Regions from separate parts of the Homo sapiens genome. Here region 1 is linked to region 2. A link means that fine-mapping ties the variant in region 2 to the expression of a gene that starts in the linked region. Tissue or cell type: whole blood. Region 2 holds a variant in brackets; the other region holds the start of a gene. All regions are shown on one strand. Distances are between the middles of the regions.

Region 1 (2,748 bases), 32 kb before region 2:
TCCATAGCAGCATGGAAACAGCCCAAATGTCCACCACCAGCTGAAGAATGGATAAACAAAATGTGGTATGTCTATATCCATACAATGGAATTTTTTCAGCCCTAAAAAGTCCTGATAGGGCCGGGCAGGGTGGCTCATGCCTGTAATCCCAGCTACTCCGGAGGCTGAGGCAGGAGAATCGCTTGAACCCATGAGGTGGAGGTTGCGTTGAGCCTAGATGGCGCCATTGCATTCCAGCCTGGGCAATAAGAGCGAAACTCCATCTAAAGGGCCGGGCGTGGTGGCTCACGCCTGTAATCCCAGCACTTTGGAAGGCCGAGGCGGGCAGATCACGAGGTCAGGAGATCAAGACCATCCTGGCTAACACAGTGAAACAAACCCCGTCTCTACTAAAAATACAAAAAATTAGCCGGGCGTGGTGGCACGCGCCTGTAATCCCAGCTACTCGGGAGGCTAAGGCAGGAGAATCGCTTGAACCCGGGAGGTGGAGGTTGCAGAGAGCCGAGATCACGCCACTGCACTCCAGCTTGGGCGACAGAGCGCGACTCGGTCTCAAAAAAAAGAAAAGAAAAAAAAGAAAAGAAGTCCTGATAGATGTTACAACATGACTGCATCTTGAAAACATTAAGCAAAAGAAGCTAGACACAAAAGGTCATATACTGAATGATTCCATCAATAAAGAAATGCCCAGAATAGGTAAAGCTATCACAGAGTCAGAAAGTAGATTAGTGGCTGGCTGGGGTTGTGGGGAGAGGGGAACCAGAAGGAATGACTGCTAACTGGTTTGGGGATTTTCTTTTGGGGTTATGAAAATGTTTCTGAACTATATACAGAGGTGATGGTTGCACAACACTGTGAATGCATTAAACGCCACTGAATTGTGAGTTTTAAGATGGTTTATGTTAGGCAAGTTTTACTCAATAAAAATAAAAATAAACTGAATTGGTAGCTAAGATATTGAAACACGGTGTGGAATCGTTCTCACTCATTTCACGAACCCGTAGAAAGATGCTTGCGCTCAGGCCTCACAGACCGGTCCCAGCGCGTTGGTGGGACACAACTCGGATTTGCAGGCAAGCCCAGGGGCCGGCCCTTTGCGGACTTCCTGGGGACGCAGGACTCCTGCGCGGCGGGCTTGGAGGCGTGGCCAGGATGGGGGCGGGGCCAGGACGCGGCATCCAGGAGAGGACGCGGCGGGAGGCGGGCTTCGCCGGTTGCCAGGAGAACTCGCGACAACAAAAGACGCGGACGGCGGCTGCGCGGTGTGGCAGAGCGAAGCTGAGGAGTCCAGCGCTCGCCGACAGGGGCCTGGGCTGTCCCGAGCCGGTCAGTGCTCGGCGGGCCTGGCGGGCGGTGCGGGGAAGTGGGGCGCCCTCCCTTCGCGGTGCCCGCCCTCCAGCCCGCCGCGCCCGCCGCTCCCGCGCCCCCAGCCGGCCGTTGGGACTAGTAGGCTCCGGCTTGGGGTCGGGGCCGCCGCGGGTGGGTAGCGGAGGGTGGGCGGTTGGGGCGCCAGCTAGGCCTATGGGGGCGTCCGAGGGGTCTGGGGTCGGGGCTGGGAGCCGGCGAGCGACTAGAGGCAGAGCGCCCCTTCCGGAGGAAGTTGGGTCAGCCCTGAGGAGCGGGTCCCGGGGAACACCGATCGACCGGAACGCGGGACCCGGCCTTTCAGAGCGCACCCTGTGTTCGTCTCGTGTCGCTGCACGGCGTGAGGTGCGACGCGAGGGCCACCACCACCGAGCGCTTTGTTTTATCGCAGGCGTCTTTTTCCCACCGTAGAGGTTGAAACTTGGGCGCATTTCCCACCGTAGAGGTTGAAACTTGGGCGCATTTCCCACCGTAGAGGTTGAAACTTGGGCGCATTTCCTACCGTAGAGGTTGAACCTTGGGCACATTCAAGCCCGAGAGCTCCCTCCCTCGGAGGCAGGTGACTATAAAGAGCAAAGCGCCCAGATTCTTTCTTTGAAACACCTTTTAAGTAACACCTTTTAAGTCTCCAGTGTTGAAAATCCTTGTTGTTTGCCCTTCTTTACTCTTTTGTCGTCTTTACGCATTTGGGGCCTTTTCTGAGCTCCGTATGCGATTTACTGTCCATCTACTGGCAAGTTTTTTATGAAAATAATTAACAAACCACACATTTAAGACAACCACTGCTTTCTGGGAAATCAAGGGTACGGGATGGCAACGGTTTTTGGAGACACTCATTCCTGACCAGTGACATGACATGAGGGATTCAATATTTCTCTTGCCTTTGCTCAGATTTCAAAAACCCGTTGAGTATACTTAAATACGACCAATCAGATTTTGCTTTTTTTTAAATCATTTATTGGCAACATAATACGTATGTTTCTGATGACTATAATTGATCAGAATCTGAAGTATAAGTGCTATGGATTGTGTAAAAACTTTATTTCTTGTATATTGATGTTTTACAAGCCCTATGTTTGTGGACCATTACTATTGTTTGTTTGTTTTGTTTTGAGACAGGGTCTCGCTCTGTTACTCAGGCTGGAGTGCAGTGGCACACTGCAGCCTCAACCTCCCGGGCTCAAGCGATCCTCCAATCTCAGCCTCCCAAGTAGCTGGGACTACAGGTGCGTCACCACAGCCTGGCACATTCTTGTATTTTTAGTAGAGACAGGGTTTCACCATGTTGCCCAGGCTGGTCTGGAACTCGTGGGCTGAAGCGATCCACCTGCCTTGGCCTCCCAAAGTGCTGGGATTACAGGTGTGAACCACTGTGCCCGGCCC
Region 2 (2,500 bases):
AAGAAATTTTAAAAGGAAATTACAATCCCAGAGAATGAAGTTGGACTCTGAACAAAGATTTTATTATTTGCTCCTTAAATAATTCCCAAACTCTCACAAAAGAAAACTAGATGCCTGCCAGTTATGGGATAAAATAGCCATGTCTAGTACGTTGTATTTGTTAGATCAGTACTTCTTGAGTTGGTTCTTCTTAAAGAATTCCCCTCCCTCATACCCCATTGGGAGGCCACCTAAAAAACTTTACGCCCATCTATCATGATGCTGATGTGACAGATGATCTAATTAGGTGACTGACAGCAGAAGCACAAAAATCAGATATAAGATGATTTTCAGAATCAGGTAGGATTTTTTAGGAGAGAATACATGACGGGGGCCTATTGTCAAGTGATTAAATCCTAAACACTGTGTGATACTCATATTCCACTATATGTTATAATTTTAACAGCTTATAATAATTTATATTGATAAATGGACTGTCTCCTCTAAGATTTTATTGCCTTTTGAGAGAAGTCATCTTGAGATTTGGTTACAGAGATGGTGCAGAGGAAATATTTTGTAATAGAAACCAGAACAAAGGTATAAAGGCAATTTCTAATTTATTGTTGTTGTTTTCCAAGGTCATTTTTTTTTGAGAATTTAAAGTGCATTTCCAATAGAAGAATGTTGTACTATAGAAAACTCCCAGGCTAGCCATACGATTTTATTTGTCCTATGACATATATTAAATATTTTTCCTAGAGCCTTAATTCAGCTATACCTAACTACCATGTATAAAGAATAAGTATATACATTGTGGTATTCAGATTAGGAATATTGCCCTGGCAGAGGGAGTGGAGACGGCTCTGGGTTTCTTCCTGTGGTAGGATTTGGATTGGAGGGGATGCAGACCTTTGGCGGCAGCACCACAGTTCTCCAGGTGTTCTGAACTGGGAAGATGGGGAAGAGGGTACATTTGTTGGGGTGTGTCTGTG[T/C]TGTGTTTAAGAGCTAGGATGTTTTCCATGCGTTCTTTTGGTTTCATTTTTGAATACTGTTTTCTGTAAGTGAAGATAGAAGAGTTGTCCAGAAGAGAAGGAGCTGTGTGGATTCTGAAAGAAGTATTTGTCTGTGAGGCACAACAGTATTGTTAAATTAATTTTGACCTTTGTTTGAGGGGAGCATTTTCCAGTGATTGGCTATTTTAAGAGTGCCAATCTAATAACCCCTTTAAAAGCACTTAGAGTAATAGGATAAAATTAGACTTTTAAAATATCACTTTTTTTGTTGTTGGGTGGGGGAATCACTTGCAAGGTCCACACAAGTCCGCCTATGTACTCTCTGGATCGAATATTTGCTGGATTTCGAACACGAAGTCAGATGCTGTTGGGTCACATAGAAGAACAAGATAAGGTCCTCCACTGCCAATTTTCTGATAACAGTGATGATGAAGAATCAGAAGGCCAAGAGAAATCTGGAACTAGGTATGTTAAATATACACTGATTTAATAAATATTTAGAATTATATGCTGCAATAAATATAGAAGTGTAGGTTTTTTCCATTGGAGTATATCTTTTATGTTTAATAGAAGAGTAGGTAACTTTTGCTAAAAGTACTATCATCTAATGTGTTATGAAAATAGTATTTGAACACAAGTCATCAGTCTTATAACTGAAAAATAATTTTGCTTTTAGAGCTTTTATAGTAATGAGATTCTAATTTTCAGAGGTTTTTTTTTTTTTTTTTTTTTGGATTTCCTTATTCTGCTGCCACGTTGGCAACAAACATGACTTTTCTACTGGATTCAACATGGATGGGGGGGGCATCCTTTTATTTTGAGCAATATTAGTAACATTCTGTTTTTATATGTAACTAATAATTTTTTTAACATTACTTTCACTTTTCGGGGAAACTAATTTGAGGGCAGATTAGAAAACACGAACAAATAAGTTAACTTTCTGATTTTTTTTTAAGATGTAGAAGTCGTTCATGGATTCAGAAGCCAGACTCTGTTTGTTCCCTTGTTGAATTGAGTGATACTCAGGATGAAACACAAAAGTCAGATTTGGAGAATGAAGGTACATAGATCTTCTTAAATAATGTAGACCTAATGGTTATAGGACACTTATCTTTTTCCTCAGTTGATAATTTAAGAAACATCCAGGAATTCTCAAAGACCAGAATTTGGTACAAATGCTTTCCTAGTTGGTAGAACTTCTTTTATGTTCTCTGTTTTACCTCTTTTACTCTTTTACTCCTTAATAAAAAAAGATTTTCTATCAATTAATTATAGCGAGAGATATAGGCTAACTCCCTCAGAATAAGGATTTTTATATTCAGACCTGAATTGATATGCTTTGTATTCCTGATGATGTTAAAATACAGTATAAATAATTGTACTAGGTGTCTACTCCTTCACTGGGACTTGTGCCTAACATCAATGATGTATTTGGCATTAGAGCCCAATTAGTGTACTGGGTGTTGGTAATGTTTTAGTACACAACTGCTAAGAATTTTTATGCATCA

The links. PIP is the estimated chance that this variant, and not a neighbour inherited with it, causes the effect.
Region 1: KIF27 starts here. The variant in region 2 is fine-mapped to the expression of KIF27 in whole blood (TOPMed, PIP above 0.99).

Annotation. Positions count from the first base shown.
Region 1 is chr9:83,919,949-83,922,696 of GRCh38, reverse strand. It overlaps KIF27 (kinesin family member 27), which reads left to right and starts at 1,265. Exons shown (of 18, transcript NM_017576.4): 1 at 1,265-1,326. It overlaps LOC105376335 (serine/arginine repetitive matrix protein 1-like), which reads right to left and starts at 1,796. Exons shown (of 3, transcript XM_011519284.2): 1 at 1,436-1,796; 2 at 999-1,343. The coding sequence starts at 1,796. RefSeq lists enhancers at 1-369, 984-1,733 and silencers at 1,103-1,252, 1,283-1,662.
Region 2 is chr9:83,888,041-83,890,540 of GRCh38, reverse strand. KIF27 (kinesin family member 27) reads left to right here. Exons shown (of 18, transcript NM_017576.4): 7 at 1,288-1,457; 8 at 1,949-2,052. Among named protein-coding and RNA genes, the nearest start is that of KIF27, 32 kb to the left of the region's middle. The variant T/C (reference allele first, on the strand shown) is at 972.